Linked DNA regions of Homo sapiens. The protein of the gene in region 2 purifies or fractionates together with the protein of the main gene of each other region. This does not show direct contact. Each region holds a gene or a part of one and is shown on either strand. Other genes may lie near its edges.

Region 1 (3,500 bases), on a different chromosome or scaffold from region 2:
GATTGTCTGCCTCGATTTCCCAAAGTGCTGGGATTACACGCTTGAGCCACCGTGCCTGGCCTACGCTCTTAAAAATTACTGATGACCTCAAAAAGCTTTTGTTGATGTGGATTATATATATTGATATTTACCATATTATAAATTAAAACTCAGACATTTAAAAAGTATTTATTCATTCAAAAAAAAATAAACTAATTATGTTAACATAATTACTGTATATTTAAATGAAAAATAATTACATTTTCCAAGTGAAAAAACAGAAGGATGGCATTGATTTACATTTTTGCAAATCTCATTAATGTCTGACTTAATAATAGGTAACTTGACTCTGTATTTGTCTGTTGTGATTTGTTCAGTTGAAGTATAGAAAGAAAATTTAGCCTCACACATAGGTAGTTAGAAAGAGAAGGCATATTATATTTCTTAATGTTACACAAAAACTCAACAAGTGCTGGTTTCTTAAAGGTGAGCTATGTGGAACCTGAAACCAGATCAAAGAACTTTCCTTACTGTTATATTAATTTTTTTAATACTTTGAGTGGATCTTTTACCCATGCATGATTTTATAACATCATGCATTGGTCATTTGTAAAATATTGGTTTGCTGAGTTGTTCAGACCTTCCAAATGTTGACATATTTCCACTATACAATATCAGAAAATCACTTTTGTTAACATCACTTCCGGTCTTATCACAAAACTCTTTAAATAATGGGAAGTTAAAGAGTTCACAGTTTTTCAGAATTCTAATTTACACTTGAAAGTTTAAATGTTATCACTGGCATTTCCATTGCTTGAGCTATTTCCATTTAATAGCTTAATTTCTCTGCTGAGATTTCCCATCTGTTCATTATGAGATATTTTCCTCTTCTTGAAAATATTTGTGATATGTAATTGGTGCTTTGAAGTCCTTCCTGTCTGTTAATTGCAACATTGGATTCACCACAGGATTGGTTTCTATATTGGCAGCTTTTTCTTCAGTGTGTATTACATTTTCCTGTTTATTTACCTGTCTGGTCACTTTTTTAAATTGTTACTGGACATCATGAATGATATACTGTAGAGACTTTGAGTTCTGTTACACTGTATTGTCAGTTGTTTTCCTTCAGGTAAAGCTCACTTTGTACAATAGCTTTTTATAGATTCCATCAGATTTTGTACCTAGAGGGTCTTCCATCTTTGCATACAGTTTAATTTCTTACTTTACAATCTAGATGCTTTTTGTTTCTTTTCCTTGCCCTGTTGCATTAGCTAGCACTTCAGTGCAGATGTTGAATAGAAGTAGTGAGAGCAGACATCTTTGCTTTGTTCCTAATCTCAGGAAGAAAACATTTAGTTTTTACAACACATTTATTAAATGTGTTGTAGCTGTATAGGTTTTTTGTAGATATCCTTTATGGAGTTAAAGTTCCCTTCTATTCCTGTTTTGCTGAGAGTTTTGTTTTCAGGAATGTATGTTGGATTTTGTTCAAAATATTTTCTAATTATCCTTTTGGTTTATTCTTTGCTCCATGGGTTATTTAGGAGTGCATTAATTCCAAATATTTGGACTTTTCTAGATATCTTACTGCTATTTACTTATAATTTAATTCCATTTTGGTCAGATAATATACTGTAATATTTTGATCTTTTGAAATTTGTTGGCCAGGCACAGTGGCTCATGCCTGTAATCCCAACATTTTGGGAGCCCAAGGCAGACGGATTGCTTGAGCCTAGGAGTTTGAGACCAGCCTGGGCAACATGGCAAAACCCTGTCTCTACAAAAAAATACAAAAATTAGTCGGGCATGGTGGCACACGCCTATAGTCCCAGCTACTGTGGAGGCTGAGGTGGGAGGATCACTGAGCCCAGGGAGGTCGAGGCTGCAATGTGCTGTGATTGCACCACTGCACTCCAGCCTGGATGACAGAGTGAGACCATGTATCAAAAAACAATAATAAAAATGAAATTTGTTAAGGTGTGTTTTATGGCCCAGTGGATAGTCTATCTTCTGAATGTTTCCTTTGCACTTGAAGAGAACGTATATTCTGTAGCTATATAAGGTAGTGTTTTATAAAAGTCAGTGAGGTCAAGGTGTTTAGATCTTAGATCGCCTGTATTCTGGGTTTTTTGTGTTTGTATTTTTCTATCAGTTACTATCAATTGTGGATTTTTTGTTTTAGCTGGTTTATTTTGTTTTTCAACTCTAAAATTTCCATTTAATAGCTTACATTTCTCTGCTGAGATTTCCCATCTGTTCATTATGAGACATTTTCCTCTTCTTGAAAATATTTATGATATGTAATTAGTGCTTTGAAGTCCTGTCTGCTAATTGCAACATTGGATTCACCACAGGATTGGTTTCTATTGACAGCTTTTTCTTCAGTGTGTATTACATTTTCCTGTTTATTTACCTGTCTGGTCACTTTTTAAAATTGTTACTACGCATCATGAATGATACACTGTAGAGACTTTGAGTTCTGTTACACTGTATTCCTCTTAAGTGTGTTAGTTTTTATTCTAGCAGGTAGTTAACATAGCTGAACTCCAAACTGTCTCCTTTGCAGTGGACGGCAGCTACAATCTTTGCTCAGTTCTTTTAGTTTCTAGCTGCCATTTTTTTAATTGGCCTGATGGTATTTTCTCTGCACATGTGTCATTTAACAGTTAGCCAAGGATTTGACTAGGGTTTGTATGTAGATTTTGAGGTTCATCTCTTTTGTAGTTCCTTCTCTTCCAAGATTTCCCCCCTAATTTCCTAGCTGTTCTGCCCACTTTGCACTAATTCCTCAAGCCAGTAAGCCTGTGGCTTTCTGCCTTCATGAGCCATGCTGTTTGGGAAGTTGCCCTCCAGCAAATCTCTTTTCACATATAGACTTCATCCAGTTCATACTTACTTTTGGTCACTCTTCCACACCTTCAAATACCTATTTTTTTTGTTTTGTCTAGGTTTTATAGTTGCTAACTGAGGATAGGTTAGTCTGTTCGGGTTACTCTGCAATGTCTAGAATCTGTCTCCCCACCTTATATGGGCCTAAGGCGTTGTCTTCTGTCCCTCGGGGTGCCGTCAAAATCCAACAGCCAGGTGTGGTGGCGTGTGTCTGTAGTACCAGCTATTTGGGAGGCTGAGGCAGGAAGATCGCTTGAACCCAGGAGTTTAAGTCCAGGCTAGGCAACATAGTGAGACCCCAACTCCAGAATAAAAAAATTTAAGGCTCTTCTTTCTGATATTGGCAGATATCTATAAGTTGACTGTAGTTCCTCATCTTGGCAGATATCTTTAGGGTAGCTGTGGTTACAGGCTAGCTTACTAGTTCCGTTTGCAGTTCACTGTATGTAGGCTTTTTGGTAGAAGGAGGATTTTTCAGAACACTCATTTGCCATACATACAGCCAGAAGTAGATCTTTTTATAGCACAACCCTACAGATGTTCCCTGCTACCGAGTTTTTGTTTTTTGTTTTTTAATTTTTGGACCCAAAACTTAGAATTCTCCCTGACCTAGTTTTTTTTTACTAGTATTT
Region 2 (3,453 bases):
GTGACTTTGGTTCAGTCACTTAACCTCTTTGAGTTACATTTCTTAGTCCGCTAAGAAAATTTGCCCTTTGTGTAAGAGTTGGACTAGTTTAAAGCTCCCACGCCTGTGCTGCATCATCAGCTCCTGGGAAACGTTGAGAAAATGCACAAATGGGGGCAAGGCCCACGAACGTGTTCTCATCTTTAAAGCTCCCAAAGTGATTCTCATTTGTGAATCATTTAAGCAGATAATTTGGGTTCCTGTCTGGCCTGAGCCTTGATTCCATCACACGTGGACTTCCACAATCAGAGGTACTCCCAGTTTCTTCTATCAGTCCATTGATTCCAGACCCCTGTCTACTTATCACACTGTGATACTGCTTTCACCTTCATTGTGGCACTCTTTACTTTTCTACTCAAGAACCATCAATAGCTCCTATTTATTTATTTTTAATTGAGTCAGGGTCTTGCTCTGTCTCCCAGGCTGGAGTGCAATGGGACGATAATGACTCATTGCAGCCTCAAACACCTGGGCCCAAGTGATCCTCTTACCTCAGCCTCCCAAGCAGCTGTGACTATGGGTGTGCACCAACATGCCCAGCTAATATTTCTTACTTTTTCAGAGATGGGGTCTCGCTGTGTTGCCCAGGCTGGTCTTGAAATCCTGGCCTCAAGCAGTTCTCCCACCCCAGCTTCCTGAGTCGCTGGGATTACAGGCATGAGCCACAGTGCCCAGCCCAGCACCCTATTATTTGAAGATAAAACAGGTTCTAGCTGCATCTGAGGCTCACCCCACCCTAGTCCAACTTTCTTTCTCCCAGGCATGGACCTTCCACTTCAGCCAAGCTGCTCTCCTCCCCTTTCCTGCTTCAAGATCTTCTCAGCCTAGAACGTCTTCCCATCCTCCACCCCACCCCTTTCAGAACTGAAGTCTACACCTTTCTTAAAATGCAGCACAAATTAATGTTTTTTGACAAATTCCCAGTGCATGCGGATCTTTTGGCATAAACTCCTATAGCACTTACTGTTAACACTTTTGTGCTTATTTGTGACTTGCCTTTATACTGTTCTTTTAATTCTTTGTTCTAGCTCATATTAAGGTCATCTCAACCAGATTTTCTCTTCTGAGGTATGGACATTTTGTGTTCCATTTCTTTTGTGTCTAATAAGAAAGGTGTCTTTATGTGTCTGATAAAAATGGGGACTGCTGCCACTTCTCGAGGACCAACTGTAGATGAAGTGTTGTACACACACTGTCACAAACCTTCACAAACCGAAGCTCCTGGAGGCAAGGTGGCCTATCCAAGGGCACTCAGCTAGTAAATGCAGAACAAAGATTCAAACCAGGTCCAGGTAACTCTACAGTTCATCTCTTTCCACTGTACTTAACACAGCCTGTATGTAGTCGGCACTCAATAAATCCTTGCTGAATAAATGATATCCCTCAGGCAAAAGGTAGTAAGGATGGTGGCAGTGGAAGGAAGTCATGGTGGGATTGTTGAGAGAGAGTGAGCAGTTTGATCACCCTGGGTATGAGGAGATGAGTTGAATACAGCAGATGTGGAGCATCTGGGTACCCTCACGATCAGTGGAAGCTGGGGAAGGCGGCATGTCAGGGGAGAGGCAGTGAAAATGTTGATCAAAGCCATGTATCTTCATGGCAACTGTAATTAGACTTAGACTGGGAGAAATAAAGAGGGGGAGGTAGGATTTCTAGAAGGCATTTGAGGGGAGGCTGTGTTTCTCTTTGGTGACCAGCCTCTCTGACTCCTGCCATCTACAGATGTGAAATTCCCTTTCGGCATTGAAGCTCCACAGCAGAAAGGTGCCAGGGCCTGAACTCAACTTGGGTTAGAAGGGCCTGGACTGCCTGTCTTGGGGGATTACCTGCCTCATGAGATAGCAGCTCCGGAGCTTGCTGGGCCCCGTTCCCTTGGCCTGAGCCCGTGGTGGGATGAAGTGATGGGAAGACTCACCTGGGCAGGTACCCACAGGCTGAGCCTTCTGTGCTGAGCACGCCTGGCCTCTGCAGGGAGCCTCGGCTTGTTCTGTGTGGGCACCTTCCTCCGGTGTAGGGGCCTCGTGCCCTGGCAGAGAATAGGATACCTCAAGGACTCTGGAGACATCACAGATGGCCAAAGGGCCCCACTGGTGCTGGGAAGCAGGAGCATTTGAAACCCTGGCTCCAGCAGGGCCCACAGGGTTCCTCCCACATCCTACCTGAATTAAGGGGCTGAGTTCCCAGCTTCCCTGGGGCTGCCTCAGACTCCTTCAAGCAGGGCGGCTGCTAAGGGTATGTAATGAGATGGACTACAAGGTTACAAGAGCCACCACTGTGAAGAGTTCCTGGAATATGTGTATGTAAGACAGTGGAAGCAAGGAAGTCCCCTGACCTGATGCCCCTAGGAGAAGGGCTGGGGACTTCCCAGCCCCCAGATGGACCCTGGTTCCAAGCAAATCACTGGGGAGAATCAGGATGTCAAAAGCCAGGCACATTCCTGCCTTAGTGCTCTGTCCTGGCTGTACTCCTGCCTGAAGCACTTTTCCCAAATCTGCTGAGCTGCCGCCTTCACCTCTTTTATTTTTCTTTTTTTAGAGAAAGGTCCTCTCTGTCACCCAGGCTGGAGTGCAGTGGCACGATCATACCTCACTGCAGCCTGGGCTTCAAGGGATCCTCCTGCCCCAGCCTCCCAAGTAGCTGGGAACACAGGCATGAGCCACCACATCCAGCTAACTTTTAATTTTTTGTGGAGACAGGGTCTTGCCATGTTGCCTAGGCTGGTCTCGAATGGGGCTCAAGCAATCCTTCCACCTTGGCCTCCCAAAGGGCTGAGAATACAGGCATAAGCCACCATGCCCGGCTTCCCCAAGCTCCTTCAAATCCTGCACAAATCTTACCTTCCCAAAGAAACCCAGTCTCCTCACCCTATTTAATCCTATAACATGCCCCACCCACCCCCACCTGCAGCTGTCTCGGCCCCCTTCAACCTGCTTCACTGGACATTATCCTCTCCCCCAGAGCTCTTATCACCTTTGAACATAGTTTAGAAATTTCCTTATTTATTGTTTGCTGACTCTCTGCACTCATTAGGATTAAGCTCTTGAAGGTAGGGATCTTTGACTATTTGGTCACTGAGGTATTCCAAATGTTTAGAATAGCATCCCACACATAATAGGTGCTCAATAAATATTTGATGAATGGAAGGAAGGAAGGAAAGAAGGAAGGGAGGGAGGGAGGGGGGAGGGAAGAAGGGAGAGAGGTAGGGAGGGCAGGAGGAAAGCAGGGGGACTCCTCCCTGAGCCTTTCCAGGGTTCCTGTTACCTACCTGAGCACACCCCCAGTGCTCTCTCTTCCCTAGAAGAGGACATCTGCTCCTGGGCATTATGGGATCCTTCCCTGGGCTCACTTTGGGGGGCCATCTCTGGCTGTCCCACAGAGAATCCTGTTACAGGCAGAAGGATGGGTCCAAGTAAA
Region 3 (3,500 bases), on a different chromosome or scaffold from region 2:
AAGACAAATCTTCCATTGAGAGACACTCAGATTTAAACATTAATGAAAGTAGTACCTTTTAAAATTTGTGGAATATACCAAAAGTGGTAGTCTGAAAGAGTTTTATGGCTATACCTGCTCATATTAGAAAAAATATATATTGAGCAAATCAATAAATACAGAATAAACTCAAAGGAAGCAGAAGAAAATAATAAAGATAAAAGGAGATATAAATGAATTAGAAAACAAAGATTCAACAGGATCAAAGAAGAAAGTACTCAGAAAAGACTAAGAGAATAGATATCTTGGTAAAAACTGATTTAAAAAAGAGAAAAAGCCAAAATAAAATAATATTAGGAACGAAAAGTGGACATTACTGTAGTCTCACTCATGAACACAGATATAATTAATTCTAAGCAAAGAATTAATAAATCCAATTTGGTTATGATGTTTAATGCAGTAAGAGAAAAGCCACATAATCACCTCAATATTTGCAAAGAAAACATCTAATAACATTCTACATTCATTCATGACAAACAAAACAAAACAAAATCATAAGAATAAGTAAAATTTACTTAACCCTTAACTCATAATAATCTATCTCTAGTGACACAAATATTAATGTTGACTCATTGGAAGTATTCTTTTGAAAATCAGGAACGTGGCAAAGATGGCACTGTTGATTTTTCTATTTATTTGACATTAGGCTAGAAGTTCTAGAAGGCACAAAAATGGGAGAAAAATGGGTCAAAATAAGAAAACTGTCATTTGCAGAAATGGTTATCTAAACAGAAAAATGAAAACGATATCCCAACAAATTAGAAATGAATTTAGGTAGGCTACTGGTTAGAACATCACTATTCAAAAATCCATTGCATTTTTATAAATTGGCTAACAAAACAATTTTCAAAGACATGCAGTTTACACCAACAAAAACTGTAAGATATCCAGGAATAGCTCTAGCAAGATTTATGTGTCAACTTCCATGAAGAGAATTACGAAATACATGAAATACATTTCACTATTTAAAGGAGACCTAAGTAAATATATATTATATACATACATACGTATCCCCAAATTGATCTGATTTAGTGCCATTTATAATTTATATGGAGGAGCAAAGGCCTAGGAAAAGCCAAAACACATCTGAAGAGAGGGGATTTAGGGGCAGGAGTGAAAGAAGCATTTTGCCCTTATAGATATGAAGCCTTATTATGAAGCTAAATAATTAACTAATGATGCAGTGACAAACTGACGAAGCAAATAGCCCAGAAAAAGACCAAGCATATATAGATATTTGATATATATCATGGCATTACAATTCATTGTGGGGAAAGGCTGCACTACTCCAAAAATATAACTACTGGTTATATATAACCAGTACTGGATAAACTGGTTATATATAAATGAACTGTTAAGAAGTAGAACACAGAATTGTAAGAGTACATTAAAACTAATTCAAAATATATATATGCAAAAGGACAGGTTGGGGAGACAGGAAGGAAAGTAACTGGTTTCCATTCTCACACCAAACAGAAAACAATTCCTGACAATCAAGCAAATAAATACGAGAGGCAACTCTTTAATTATTTTAGAAGGAAAGAAGAACTTATGATCACAGGAAAGAGAAAAGTTTCTTAAATATTACATAAAAAGCTTTAAGTGCTAATTTTTCAAAAACTCAACTACATCAAGAACTTCTGGTCCTGGTCCTCAAAAGACACCATAGAAAATAAAAAGAGAATTCATGAATTGGAAGATTTCTTTAATATGTATGAAGAATTGGTATCCAAATTATATAGAGAAGTTCCACAAATGCGTAAAATATACTACATGATAGAAAACTGGGCAAAAGACATGAACTGGCTTATCTCTAAAGAAAACAACTTATATTAAATGATGCTCAACATTAGAAAACAAGGAAATACAAATTCAAACCACAATGAGACAGCCTTTTATCATTAGTCTGAACATACCATGAGTTGGTTAGAATGTGGATGAGCAGGAACACTACTCTTGTACCACAAAAGTATAAAATGATACAACCACTACTTTGAAAAATATTTTGGTACAATTATGTAAAGTTAAACATTTACACATTCCATGACTCAAAATTATCCTACTGTAGGTAAACATTCTAGGGAAACCTTTATGTACACACACCCTTGATATGCCTGTTACCCCCAAATTTATCTCAAGACCTCTTTCCTGAATTCCAAGCTCACATCCCAACTACCTGCTTGACATCTCTTCTAAAAACTCTTGAGTCATCTCAAACATAATATATGCAAAACTGAACTCTTGATTTCCCCTTAAATCTCCTTCACTCAGTCTTCCACATCTAGTCAATGACCATTTCATCCTTCTAATTTGCTCAGTCTAAAACCTTAATACCATCTCTGAATCCTCTATTTATCTCATATTCTGCATCCAATTTGTCAGGAAATTGAAGCAGCTCTGATTTCAAAATATACCCAGGGGAAAAAATATTTAGAATCAGATCAATTCTCACCACTTTCATTGTAACTACCCTGGCCCAGGTCATGATGAAAGCCCATCATTTCTTTCCTGGATTTGTTTAGTAGCTTCCTTTCTCTACTTACCTCTCCAGCTACATTCTCAGTAAAGCAGCCAACTACTTCTAAAAATTAAGTCTGATCACATCATTTTCCTATTCTTTTTTTTTTTTTTTTTTTTTTGAGACGGAGTCTCGCTCTGTCGCCCATGCTGGAGTGCAGTGGCGCGATCTCGGCTCACTGCAAGCTCCGCCTCCCGGGTTCACGCCATTCTCCTGCTTCAGCCTCCCGAGTAGCTGGGACTACAGGTGCCCGCCACCACACCTGGCTAATTTTTTTGTATTTTTAGTAGAGATGGGGTTTCACCACGTTAGCCAGGATGGTCTCAATCTCCTAACTTCGTGATCCACCCGTCTCGGCCTCCCAAAGTGCTGGGATTACAGGCGTGAGCTACTGTGCCCGGCCACGTCATTCTTCTATTCTAACCCACCCAGTGGCTCTTCATTTCACTAAGTATAAAACCAAAGTCCTCATACCGGCCAACAAAGTCACTGATCTGGTCTTTCTTCTTCATCATACTTTCCTAGGACCTCTTCTACAATTCTCTCCCTTGCTTGATTTCAGTCACAATGGCCTCCTTGTTATTCTTAAAAAGCATATTCGATACACTCCTGCCTTGGAGCTTGTGCACTGGGTGTTCTCTCATTCTGGGGCTCTTTTTGCCCAAAGATGGCTAATTTCCTCACATCCTTCAAGTCTTTGCTAAAAGGTCAATTTCTCAATAAAGCCTACCCTGACTTTCCTATATAAAATCACTACCCAGTAGACAAATGGGCAAGAGACACAATCAATCAATCAAGGGGAAAAAAATATGAAAAGATGTTCAACCTCATTCAAAATGAGAACTGCAAATTAAAACTACAGTGATATACAATTTCTCACTTATCAAACTGGAAAAAATGATTTACAATGAGTGTTAAGTTGAGGAGTAACATTCAAGTTATC
Region 4 (3,500 bases), on a different chromosome or scaffold from region 2:
CAGCCTCAGGCCTGGGAGAAGCTGGGGCAGAAGCTCCTGCTGCACACTGGGCCCCTCTGGGGGCTGAGGGTCCCCACATGCAGGCCACCCATGGCTTGGGGACGGGCAGTAGGACTGTACCCTGGCCATGGCCTCAGGTCCCAACACCCAGTGTCCTCCTCCAGCCAGAGAGGCCCTCCCCTGGGGAAGCTGTGTGAAGCAGGGTCCAGGTGGGGCCCTGAGAAGGCCGAGGGCTCTCTTCCCTGCCCACCACCCCCAGGTGCTCTGTGAGACATTCGTGATCCAAGGGCCCAGGTCTGCTCAGAGCTGCAGTGAGGGTCCAGTGAGGGGCACCAACCACAAAGGCAGCCCGCCCTGCCCTTAGGCCGAGATTTCCAATGCAGATGCTGAGGGACACAGACGCAGGGCCCACCACTACCTTGAGGACGGGGCCAAGGAAAGTGTCCTTCTTGTGCCGGCAGACTCTGCTGAGGACCAGGAAAGCCAGCACCCGCAGAGACTCTTCCCCAGTGCTCCATACGATCACCATTCTCTGCAGAAGGTCAGACGTCACTGGTGGCCCCCCAGCCTCCTCAGCAGGGATGCCCCAGGGCCAGCACAGCCCTCCCCAGCCAGGCAAAGGCTCCCATGGCCACCAGCTCTTCCCAAAGCACCTCGGGGGAGCCGTGAGTTAGGTGCTCAGTTACAGAAGTGAACAGAACAGGTGTGTTGCTCCTTGTGAGAAGAGGACCACAAAAGTTTACCACGTCAGACACGCCGACGTATGTGAGATCACACCGGGAAGAAGATACCTCACCGTGGCTTTGCTCACGGACTGAGCCGCGCTGCCCGGGCAGGCAGGGACTGCCTGAGACAGAAACCCCAGGTGGGGGTGGGGGCCAGGTGCTTCTGTGGCCTCTCTAGCCAAGCGGAGCCAGTGGAGTGTGGGCACCACCTGTGCCCTGGCCAGGAGTGGGATGTGGTGGGGGTAGCCGTGTGGCCCCCCGACCCCATGACAGACACAGGGAGGGGACTGGGCCACGAACCTTGAGCAGCATGCGGCACTGCTTGGGGAAGGTCAGGAAGCAGGGCACCAGCACGCTGATGTGCCGCAGCACGGCCGCCAACACCGTCGTCTCCGACAGACAGGACACCAGCTGGGGGCAGGAGGGGACAGTGAAGCCCCAAACCCATGTATTCTGGGATACAAAAAAGGACCGACCACCAGATACAGCCAGGCCCCCGTGCCCTCCCCACCAGAATAGCACCTGTATGGCCGAGCCCAGGTAAGCCTTGATGTCCACACGAAGCTTCCCCCAGAGCGGGCTGCTGGACGGCTGCAGCATCCTGCAGAGAGACCACCCACCCCTGGCTGGGAGGCCCCACGGCTCGGACGCGAGGCTGCTCAGCATGTTGGCGCGTGCCCTGGCCAGCATAGCCTCTACGACTCTGCAGAGACCCCCCGTCTCTCCACTCAAAAAAGCTCAGGGCCCCTTACAGCTGGACAGACACAGGGGCTTAGGAGGACCCTCTCAAGTGCATTAGCTCCTCCTTCAGTGGCCTTGAACTCCTGTCTGCCCTGCCCAGGGTTGGCCACCGCCCTAAGAGTCCCCGGAAGTCCCAGCCTCCAACTCCCTCTCAGACATAAACCTTTTCTAGGTCCCCTTGATCACATCCCCACCGTGAGACCACACGAGGTCCCTAAGCCCAGCAGCTGGTACTCAGCACCTCTGGGGTCGCCCAGGCACCACCAACTGCCGCAGACTGGTTTCCTTTGGCCCACATTTGCTGCACAAAGAAAAGAAAATCAGAGGGCAGGTGTGGAGACTCATGCCAGTACTCACTGCACTTTGGGAGGCCAAGGCAGGAGGATCAAACTCCAAGCCCAGGAGTTTGAGACCAGCCTGAACAACACAGTGAGACCCCGTCTCTACAAAAATATACAAAATATTATCCAGGCCTGGTGGCGGAGTCCCAGTTACTTGGGAGGCTAAGGTGAGAGAATCACTTGAATCCAGAAGGTACGTGTCGCAGTGAGCTATGATCACTGCATTCCAGCCTGGGCGACAGAGCAAGATCCTATCTCGTAAGGAAAAAAAAAAACCAAAAACCAAACAAACAAAACAAAACAAAACAAAACATTTACCAGAGCCCACGCAGTAGGCGCTCACTAAAATCTGCTGAAGCATGGGAAGGACAAAGGGCAGGGCCCCAGAAAGGCCCCCCGTCCTCGACCCTCCTCACACCTGTGCTGACACTGGCTGCTGGGCACCTGCAGCTGCCCACCCAGACCCAGGAGGCAGCTCTGCTCCCCACGGCCTGACTCCCTCCGGTACAGCTGCTGCCTCGACAGGGGTCCCTGACCTGGTGGCTCAGGCTGCAGTGCGTGCTGCCTCCCAATCGCTGCCTGTCCCTCCACCCCCATCTGCCAGCTTCCTTGTCCCCTTCGGACAGCACTGCCTCCATGTGGACATGGCTCTGTTCTATCCGTCCAGCCCCGACCACTACCACCAGCAACAGTGCCCCTGTCTCCTGAGCCGCTGTCGGCGAGACCTCTCCTGTGGGTCTCCTTTCTTCCTTTGAAGGTGTCCTGGGGCAGTTCCAACTCTAGGCCTCCACTGCCTCAAGGTCACATGGCTGCACAGCCCCGGAACCCCAACGTGCTCCATGCTCTACCAAATGCTTGGCCGTGCGTCTCTCTTCTCTGAAAACCTTCCACGGCCTTCTCTGCCCAATCTTTCTCTAAAGGGGAAGTTGAGGCCCTCAGGTTCTCAGCATTGATGAGGCCCCTGTCTACAGACACACACAGCTCCAGGAAACAGGCCAGTCATAGTGCAGAGATCAAGGAGTATGGACAGGACTTACAAGTTCTTACAAAGGGAAATAGAGCAAGAACCCTAACCTGGGAAAATCTGAGAGCAAAGGCAGCTGCACACGCCACACCTTCTGAGACTCTGAGCAGACAACTTCCCTTTTCAGGAAGGAAAGAAGGTGGGGCCGCTCCAACTGGCCCCAAGTGCCCAGCCTCTCCCAACGGTCCCTCGTGCCCCGCTGCCTTCTCAGGGTCCCCAAGAAGACGCTGGCTCTGTTGCCATGTCTCTGTCCTAGCCACAAGGCCTCTGGCTTCTCCTGTGTGTGGTCCCGACCCACCTTCCACCCTACCCCCCTTCACCCCCTCCCCTCTTACCTGCTGCTATCCTTTGCCACCTTTCCAAACAGCAGCTTCTGGAGACAGCCAATGAGGTCTCTGATGCAGAAGGTAACCAGAGCATTGAATGCTGCAACGAAAAGGCCTGGATGTACTCACGGGACAGAGAACGCAACAGACAGCCTGGATGCCAGGCTCCCCCCAAGCTCACCAGCACTGTCCGTGACCTGGAATTTGTTGGCCTCAGCACTTTCCTGGTCCCCTCGGGTGGTGGCCACAGCTGCTCGGAACGCCTGTACCACTTCATGGAACAGCTTTGGAGTGAGGCGTTGCTGAAGGAGCAAGAGTACCAGGGGCGTCAGGGGAGCTGAGA
Region 5 (3,500 bases), on a different chromosome or scaffold from region 2:
TTAGAAAGCAATGGCCTAAGAATGTTTTAATGTAGATTCCCAACCCTGGTCAAACATCGAGATAAAAATTCTATACCTTAAGCACACTTATCAATTTTGATCTTGGTGCCTTCTGTCTCTTTAGAAAGTTGTATAAGTAGATATGGGCATTTGGATTTGATGGAAACTTTTCATCATATGCATAATTGGTGAGTACCTCTTGGGCTCCATCTCGATCCCCATAGAATTCCAGCATCTATATAAAATAAATCATAATATCTTAGCTGAATTCTGTAAGACAGCTATACGAAAAATAATACACAGCATAAGTTTACTGATGGGTATTTTTTAAAAATCACAAAACTGACAGGGTTCCCATTTTTTCCCTGTATTTTGTTACTACTAATAAACAATGCAGCAACCTCAACATAAATTCTCTTCCTATAAAAAATAAGAGTCCTCAAAGCAGGGAACACTAATGCTCGAAAATGTGATGCAGCTAACCTCAGTGCCCTACATCACTGCAGCCACAAAAGGAGTGCATGAGAATTGTAATTCCTTTCATCCTGTTCCCATCCTTACACAGGAATCTCCAGATTATGATTTTGGAGATTATCTTCTGACAACACAATTATCAACTTGCCACTCATTAACTTTCACAAAGCAAATTATTTTGAAGATTTATTCCTAGTGCCTAGCACCAAGGCCCTCAGTCCTTTTACAATGACTCTGGGATGACAGGACATTCTTATGAACTTCCAAAAAGCCATCATTCTTCACCTCATATAGTATGACCCATTTTTTCAGATTTTTGTCCTCTTTCCTTCTATATCCCACCAAATCATAAGGTATCTTACTGCATTTCTTTTAAGCTCAACAAGAATAAGATTGAATTAACATTTACAACTATACTGCTATTTATTTTATAGATACTTGGCCACGACGGGTTATACAGTGGTGAAAATAAACAAATTCAGACCAAAAAAGAGACACCGTATTTTTGCTTTCTTTTAAATAATTTTTTCCATTAGTTTCTTTCTGATCAATAAAGATTAGGCATGCAGTCTTTGTATAGGCTTTTGACAAAATAAAACCAATAAATTTAATGAAAATTCTACTTACTTCTACATAACTCTTCACAAAAGGGTCCCAAACTCCAGGAATTTTAATCAATGCAGAAATATTTGCAGATGTCTTCCAGCTGTGGTTGAACACATCCTGGGCTACTGCATTGTAAGCATAATCATCCTTATCTGCCCAAAGATACAAGATCTTTTAACATTCATTAAACATTGAGGACCTCTGTTAAATTAGTAATTTAAAAAACTATCTGCGAGAAAAACTCAGTTGCTGATAGCTACAACAGTAAATTCCAACAAATATTTAAAGGAAAATACTAATTCTTCACAAATTCTCCCAAAAAAAGGACAGAAAAGAATACTTCCTAACTTATTCTAAGCCAGTATTACCATGATACCAAAACCAAAGACAACACAATAAAACTACAGATCAGTATCTCTTAAGAATATAGCTGCAAAAATCTTTAACAAAAATACTAGCAAACTGAGTCCAACAACATATAAAAAGCATTATACATCATGTCCAAGTCGGATCTATACTAGGAATGCAAGGTTGGCTTAACATCTGAAAATCAATTAATGCAAATAATAAAATAGAGATCTATTGATCTAAACCAAATCAAAAGAATACAGGACCAAAACCTCATGATCATCACAATAGACACAGAAAAAGCATCTGAAAAAACACAATAACCCTTCATGATAAAAAGACTCAACAATGTAGGAACAGAAGGAACTTCCTCAATCTGATAAAGGGCATCTATGAAAAACTCATAGCTAACATTGAACTGAATGATAAAAGACTGCATGCTTTCCCCCTAAAATCAGTAATAAGACAAAAATGTCTTTTCTCACTACTTTTGTTCATTATATTGGTGGTTCCAGCCAGGACAATTAAGCAAGAACATAACAAAAAGATATCCAAGATTGGAAAGGAAGAAGTAAAACTATCTCTATTTGCAGATGACATGGTCTTGTACACAGAAAAATCCTAAGAACCCACTAAAAATTTACTGAACTAATAAATGAGTTCACAAAGGTTGCAGAGTACAAGATCAATACACAATAATCAACTGTATGTCTATACACTTGCAATGAACAAGCAGAAGATAAAATTAGGAAAACAATGCCATTTGCAAAAGCATCAAAAGTAACAAAATGGGTAGAAATTTTACAAAAGAGATGCAAAATTTTACTCTGAAAAGTGATACTGTTGAAAAAAAATTTTTTAAGACCTAAATGAATGAAAAGACACTCTGTGTTCAGTTGAAAGACTTACTATTGTCAAATTGATCTACAGATACATGTAATTCCTATCAAAAACTCGGCCTTTTTGCATAAGTTGACAGGCTGATTCTATAATTCATACGAAAATGCAAGGGACCAAAGAAGAACAAAGAATCTTTAAAAAGGACAAAGTTGGATAATGTACTCTATGACTATGGCCAGGCATGGTGGCTCACACCTATAATCCCAGCACTTTGGGAGGCCGATGTGGGTGGATCACCTGAGGTCAGGAGTTCGAGACCAGCCTGACCAACAAGGTGAAACCCCGTCTCTACTAAAAGTACGAAAAAATTAGCTGGGCGTGGTGGCACACGCCTGTAGTCCCAGCTACTCAGGAGGCTGAGGCACAGGAATCGCTTGAACCTGGAAGACACAGATTGCAGTGAGCTGAGATCCTGCCACTATACTCCAGCATGGGCAACACAGCAAGACTCAGTCTCAAAAAAAAAAAAAAAAAAAGTACTACAAAGCTGTAGTAATCAAGACTGTGTGATATGGGCAGAAAGAGAGACACATGTAGATCAATGGAAGATTTAGAGTCCAGAAGTAAACCTCTACATTTATAGGTAACTAATTTTCTTTTGTGTGTGTGTAAGACAGGGCCTTACTTTGTCTCCCAGGCTGGACTGCAGTGGCATGATTTCAGCTTACTGAAGCCTCACTCTACCTCCTGGGCTCAAGTGAACCTCTCACCTCAGCCACTCAAGTAGCCAGGACTACAGGCACACGCTACCACACTCAGCTAATTTTTGTATTTTTTGTAGAGATGCAGTTTCACCATGTTGCCCAGGTTGGTTTCGAACTCCTGAGGGCTCATGCGATCTACCTGTCTTGGCCTCCCAAAGTGCTAGGATTACAGGCATGGCCACTGCTCCCGGCTGCTAACTAATTTTCAGTAAGGGTGCCAAGACAATTCAGTGGGAAAATAATAGACTTTTCAATAAATGCTACAACTGGATATCCACATACAAAATAATAAAGTTGGGCCCCTACCTACTTCATAAAAATTAACTCAAAGGCCAAAATATAAGAGCTAAAACTTTAAAACTCTCAGAAGAAGTGAAAATCTTTGCGACCTTGCAGTAGGCAACAGCTTCTTAGATGTGATACCAAAACCACAAGCAACAAAAGAAGAAACAGTTAAATTAAACCTCA
Region 6 (3,500 bases), on a different chromosome or scaffold from region 2:
TTTGTGTATGTTTATGAAGGTCTTTTCTTTAAACATTAGCTTTTTTAAAGTTCTATTTAAACAAGAATCTTAGCAAAAATCTGTTATCATTATCAATAAAACAAAAGAAAACACAACACAACCTTTGTCTCTGAATAACATGGTACTGCTACAGGAAATGGTTACATCTGCATTACAATTAGCTGCTAATCCTTAAGCTGGCTGGGAACACAAACTAGAATAAAAATAACAGACGTGTCCCTCACCCAGATGCTCCCAGACCCTGTTCTAAAGAAATACTAGGGAGAACAGGGACTTCATTCTTTTAAATGACACTTAAATTTAAAAAAAGGAGAATGATGCCAATGGTTGAATGTAAGTCCAAGAAGCTAAGACTTCCGTGAGTGAAAAATCACAGTGGACTTGGCAAATGACTATGGCAAGAAACGGTAGTAACTGTCATCCAAAACTTAACAAGTAAACAAGAAAGCTTCTCTTTGGTCCCCACATCCCCACCCTTTAGGAAGGAATCTATCTATCCAGTCTGCAATCTTCACACATCACAAGTAAGATTTGCATTTCTCAATGTGGGCCTCTCTCAGAACACAATGACCAAGAACAGCCAGCTACGACAAAGTCATACCTGAGTATTGGGGCCTGATTTTCCCTTGTGCACGTCCCCTGTTTCCAAGTCTTCAAAGTCACCGTAGAGCTCCTCTGGGAAAAGAACACCCAAAGGCTGCTCTGTGAGCCAGGTATGCATGTGCTGCTGGCCCCACCTACCACAGGCCCACAGTGTGCTCTGCGTTCCAAGCCTCATTCTCACTGTTCCTGTCACTACACACACAGGCAAAACTTTGCACTAGGGAATGCTTTGTAAAACAGTTAGTATTTCATCATCTGTTTAGGTAAACTAAATGGACCCAATCCACATTTCCGCACTTCACATCAAAATCCCAATCTCAATTTTTCCAGTATACACAATGGACACTCTTTTGTTTTTGTTTTTTATTTTTGGAGACAGAGTCTCACTCTGTCACCCAAGCTGGAGTGCAGTGGCATGATCTCAGCTCACTGCAACCTCCGCCTCCCGGGTTCAAGCAATTCTACTGCCTCAGTCTCCCGAGTAGCTGGGATTATAGGCACCCGCCACCAAGCCTGGCTAATTTTTGTATTTTTAGTAAAGATGGGATTTCACCAATTGGCCAGGCTGGTCTCGAACTCCTGACCTCGTGATCTGCCCTCCTCAGCCTCCCAAAGTGCTGGGATTACAGCCATGAGCCACTGCACCTGGCCAATGGACACTCTTTATGAAAGACACAGAGGTCTATGTGTGTCCCCCAAACGAATAGTTCAAGGAATGAATAGAAAAGCTCCACGCTGATACCAGCACATGTGAAAAGGAGTCTCAATGTAAGTTCAACACAACACAATCGTGTAACACACCTAGGGGAAATTTTAGGTTATATAAAACATAGCATTTAGATTAAGAGTAGAGCCCCAAACCACACCAAACCCATGGGAAGAGCTTATTCACTCATTCATTCCTTCATTTGTTTTTGGAGCTCTGGGCTCAATTATAGTTCCCACTCTTAAAAGAAACAGACAAGTAAGGCTGGGTGCAGTGGCTCACGCCTGTAAACCCAGCACTTTGGGGGCCCGGGAGGCAGACGTTGCAGTGAGCCATAATTGCATCACTGAACTCCAGCCTGGGTGACAGAGTGAGACCCTGTCTCAAAAAAAGGAAAATAAAAGAAATAGGCAAGTTAAAACTCATTTGGGAGAGCAATGTTTAGAAGGCTATTAAAACATTTTCACATAAGGGCCAAAGAACCAGGTAGAAGTTATAATAGATAGGAAGCTCCTATTTGTAATAAAAGCAAAAAAGGATAAAATAGGAATAAACCTAACAAGAAATGCACCAGAACTTTATTTTTTTAAAAAAGAAGAAAAGCTTTAATATGCTACCAAAGGACAAAAGGAATAGCATCACCACCAACACTCATCGGTGCTCTCCACACCAGGCACTGTGTTAAGTACTTTCCTTGCCTTAACCACATTCTTCAACCCAAGGAAGTAGGTGTTGTAAATATTATCTACTGAATAATGATATGTCCTCATTTGAAAAGAAAGACTCAACATCAAAAATACGCCAATTCTCCCTTTAGCACAGTTACAACCTGAAACCACCATTAAGGATTTCTGGTCTAGAGAAGATAACACATTATACCCTCCTAAGAAATAATAGACAGGAGATGATCAAAGGAGAATTCTGAAAGGTGGAAAGAAAAAGGCTGCTGAGGGACTCTAGGACTAGGGAATGCATAGTGGCCAGGTGTCTCCCTGGACCTCATCCAATAGGAAGTTGACCAGGCCCAGAGTTTCCCAACTCCCAACGTAGCAATAGAAGGCAACCCAGGCAGACTCAGTCCCCCCAGATCAAAGGAAATCTTCCCCATAACAAGAAAACCAGCTCCACACACCAAGACAACCACCACTCCCCACCCACCTAGCTGCAGCAGGTGGCCCAGCCTGGGGCAGCTCCCCTGTTCCCTCAGGTGGGCAACAGCAGGGACTGGTGGGAGAATCCCAGTGATACATATAAGCCAAACAGACCAAAATAACACCATGAAGGCTCTGAAATTAAATTGCCATTGGAATCACAGCCCACAAAGTAGACCAGGACCTACAGACTAAACCCAAATAGGAGGACTGCCTGCAAAAATAAAAAAATTACATAGGCAGATGTTGGAACCATCTGACTCATCACTTATAACAGTCAGCATAAATATGCTTCAACAAGCAACTACAAATCCTATGGCAACAAACAAAGAACTGAAAACGTCAGCAAAGAAACTGAAGAAGAATCAAATGGAAATTACAGAAATATAAAATACAGTAACAGAAATTAAAAAAAAATCTATCTAGATGGGCTCTATTGAGTAAAAGTGGAGACGACAGAGGAGAGAATCAGAGAAGCTGAAACCTGTATCAACAGAATTCACCCAGTCTAAACAATAGAGAGAAAATAACCTGAAAACAAATGAACAGAGCTGCACGGACCTGTGGGACAATAACAAAAGACCCCGCATTTATGTTATCTGAGTCCCACAGGAGACCAGAGCTGCAAAAGCATGCAAATAACTAATTCCTGACGCTTCCCACATTTAGTGAAAGATATAAACTTACAGATTCAAGAAGCTGAGCAAACCTCAAAGTATAACAAAAGAAAGCAACACTGATTAAACTTTCAAAACTAAAAACAAAGACCAAAAATGGCAGAATGCCTGTAGGGACATGCCAACTCAAATGCCATGGAGGCCAGAAGGAAGTGGCACAACATTTTCAAGTGCTTAAAAAAAACCAACCAAAGAAACAAACAAAAAAACCAAACCAACAAACAAAAAAACTGTTGGTTGCAAATTCTATATCCCATGAAACTACCCTTCAGAAATGAAGAGAGAAATAAAGACATTATCAGAGGAAGAGAATATAGGAATTTGTCTCTGGTAAATTTAGAA
Region 7 (2,243 bases), on a different chromosome or scaffold from region 2:
TTCTTGGGGACGTGGTATTCAGGCAAAGGCGCAGTTATTTTTCACAAGCCTCCTCTGACAAGAACTGGACATCAATCCACTGCCACCCGGGGCTTCCAGGTTCCACTCGAAGACCCAGAGAGATTTTAAACTTTCTGGGAAGTCTTGCTGTCCCGCTGTACACCTTTTTGGGTTTTTCTCCATTTTAATGTTTTCCCACGGCCAAAGCAGGGTGTCGGCTGCAGACTGTGCTGCAGGGGCCGGCCACCAGGCTCTCCAGGTGCGTTTTGCTTTTTGACCTTGGCGATGTCGGCCTCCATGCCGCTTGAGTATTCCGAACGTAGGATTTCAGCGAGGCTGTGTTTACTCTGGGTCTTCTTATGAAGGTCAGGCCTGAAGAACAGTAACAGCAGAGAGGGAAAAGAAACTTTATTATTTTTCTTTCCCATTTGGAAAGAGGCTGATAGCAGCTGGTTCTGAGACTGTGAAGCTGACATTTTTGTATTAACAGAAGTACAATCCCTTCAATAGTACTTGTTTTGATATTCGATGCACCAGAAGATTAGATACGGCGCTGACAGATTTTCATAACAGCGGCAAAATATCATGGCATTTTTAAAAGTGAGGCTTTGTTCTGTGTTGTTTTCATGGGGAAAAAAAGAACTATACACCCTCATGCTCTGATGGCAAATGAGGTGTATGATACAGCGGTTTGCCAAAGGACAGGGAAAAACCCACCGTCACACTCAACAACATGAAGCAGTGAAAGCTCACGGCAGCTTCCCAGTAACCCCTAAGCAGCTTAAAGCAACTGGCCTCCTCATGGGCTCCTGAGGGCTTCAGGACTCAGCCCTGCGGGAGCAGAGTCCAGCAAGTTCCACGCAGCCCTCCAGGGTTCCACAGTGAAGGCTGGGATGACAGCCAGATAGCTCTTTATGAACGGAAAAAACTCTTAAACATATTTCTGACCCTACAAAACCCAAACCCAGGGCACAGCCTGGTCAATGTCTGCATCTAGGATTAGACCAGCAGCTTTCTGCAGCCCACACAAACCCGGGTGTTAGAGGGAGGTCTCTCCCTACCCTAAGTCACTCAGAAAATGCCAAAGGTTGAAAATCAATTTCCGATGTCGAATCCTGATAACTGTTCTGAAAAGATGGCAATTTTACCATTTGATCGGAAGATCAGAGGAGGAAATTTGTAGATGTTCAATCATACATAAGAAGAATGATTATGAAAACTGAAGAGTAAAACAATGTTTCTTAAGACAGGATTTTAACCAAAGCAACAACAATAAAACAATTACCAATAAATCCACACTTCCTTGCTGGCAACTCCTTCAATACCAAAACGGCAATGTCTTAGGATACTATAGTGTCATGGAGTTCTCACAAAGACATATGTTACGTTCTGCTACTACATTTAGAGCATTTTCTTTGCTGTAATCAGAGAATAAACTGAACTGAAACTGTGGTCAAAATAAATGTAACAATGCCTTTAAAACCCAAGAATTAGAAATAAGACTAATAGTGTGTTGTTAACCTGACTGTGAAAGCTTGTAGAAACCCATTATAAACGAGCTAAAGCAATAATACCTGTTTCTAATCACACTCCAGAGGACAGGGTGACAGTCATACAATGGTGTTTTCTATTGCAACATACAGGAAGACACATTCAAGCCAACCTCTGCAGGAAAAGAAGATCTGAAACAAGGGGACAATGAACAGATAACATTTAAAGGCCAGGAGTTTATGGGGTGAGCACATCAGGGCAGGATGTAGTGAGAAGATTAGAAGTATACAGGGAAGACTTCCTGGGGTCTGTGGGAAATGATTCACATACACAATCTCTTACAATCCTCGCTCAACAAGGTGGGTACGGTTATTATCCTCATTTACAGACAAGGACACAAAGACTCAAGGAGGGTAACCTGCCCCAGGACCACATGGCTGGTAAGTGGAGAAGCCAAGAGGCAAACTCAGGGCAGAGAACGATTTGCCGGGTCAGCGGGGGCAGGACTCAGCTGGACCAAGGGTGGAAAATGGTGAGATGTGATGGGAGGGGTCCTCTGTGGTCTCCTAAGGACTACTTCAGCAGGACAGTGGGGCAGGAGCCAGGCAAGTGAGTAGGGAGTGGTGAGGGGAGACAGCAGAGCTGCAGGGTGGAGGAGGGAGAAGCCAGGGTTGGAACTTGACTATCACTCATCAGCTGAGGACACAGAATGAGTGACTCAGGCTCTGTGCCTCAGTTTCCTCACTGAGAAT

The links.
Region 1: the proteins of ZNF467 (region 2) and BUD13 purify together in Homo sapiens (affinity purification with mass spectrometry; one large-scale study listed by BioGRID and IntAct). This does not show direct contact.
Region 3: the proteins of ZNF467 (region 2) and RPF1 purify together in Homo sapiens (affinity purification with mass spectrometry; one large-scale study listed by BioGRID and IntAct). This does not show direct contact.
Region 4: the proteins of ZNF467 (region 2) and NOC2L purify together in Homo sapiens (affinity purification with mass spectrometry; one large-scale study listed by BioGRID and IntAct). This does not show direct contact.
Region 5: the proteins of ZNF467 (region 2) and TAF1A purify together in Homo sapiens (affinity purification with mass spectrometry; one large-scale study listed by BioGRID and IntAct). This does not show direct contact.
Region 6: the proteins of ZNF467 (region 2) and BMS1 purify together in Homo sapiens (affinity purification with mass spectrometry; one large-scale study listed by BioGRID and IntAct). This does not show direct contact.
Region 7: the proteins of ZNF467 (region 2) and DDX31 purify together in Homo sapiens (affinity purification with mass spectrometry; one large-scale study listed by BioGRID and IntAct). This does not show direct contact.

The regions. Positions count from the first base shown.
Region 1 is NC_000011.10:116,752,488-116,755,987, reverse strand, and holds part of BUD13 (BUD13 homolog), read left to right. Parts: intron 1-3,500. UniProt on the Homo sapiens protein: Involved in pre-mRNA splicing as component of the activated spliceosome. As a component of the minor spliceosome, involved in the splicing of U12-type introns in pre-mRNAs.
Region 2 is NC_000007.14:149,767,136-149,770,588, forward strand, and holds part of ZNF467 (zinc finger protein 467), read right to left. Parts: intron 3,422-3,453; coding exon 3,305-3,421; intron 2,066-3,304; coding exon 1,955-2,065; intron 1-1,954. UniProt on the Homo sapiens protein: Transcription factor that promotes adipocyte differentiation and suppresses osteoblast differentiation in the bone marrow. Enhances the osteoclast-supporting ability of stromal cells.
Region 3 is NC_000001.11:84,485,766-84,489,265, reverse strand, and holds part of RPF1 (ribosome production factor 1), read right to left. Parts: intron 1-3,500.
Region 4 is NC_000001.11:952,757-956,256, forward strand, and holds part of NOC2L (nucleolar complex protein 2 homolog), read right to left. Parts: intron 3,460-3,500; coding exon 3,339-3,459; intron 3,258-3,338; coding exon 3,167-3,257; intron 1,327-3,166; coding exon 1,248-1,326; intron 1,137-1,247; coding exon 1,026-1,136; intron 533-1,025; coding exon 419-532; intron 1-418.
Region 5 is NC_000001.11:222,569,434-222,572,933, forward strand, and holds part of TAF1A (TATA box-binding protein-associated factor RNA polymerase I subunit A), read right to left. Parts: intron 1,233-3,500; coding exon 1,102-1,232; intron 236-1,101; coding exon 77-235; intron 1-76. UniProt on the Homo sapiens protein: Component of the transcription factor SL1/TIF-IB complex, which is involved in the assembly of the PIC (pre-initiation complex) during RNA polymerase I-dependent transcription.
Region 6 is NC_000010.11:42,813,795-42,817,294, reverse strand, and holds part of BMS1 (ribosome biogenesis protein BMS1 homolog), read right to left. Parts: intron 697-3,500; coding exon 623-696; intron 1-622. UniProt on the Homo sapiens protein: GTPase required for the synthesis of 40S ribosomal subunits and for processing of pre-ribosomal RNA (pre-rRNA) at sites A0, A1, and A2.
Region 7 is NC_000009.12:132,594,741-132,596,983, forward strand, and holds part of DDX31 (ATP-dependent DNA helicase DDX31), read right to left. Parts: intron 1,683-2,243; coding exon of another isoform or gene 1,628-1,682; exon of another isoform or gene 403-1,627; intron 373-402; coding exon 126-372; 3' UTR 1-125. UniProt on the Homo sapiens protein: May have DNA helicase activity and RNA helicase activity. Probably have ssDNA and RNA dependent ATPase activity. Plays a role in ribosome biogenesis and TP53/p53 regulation through its interaction with NPM1.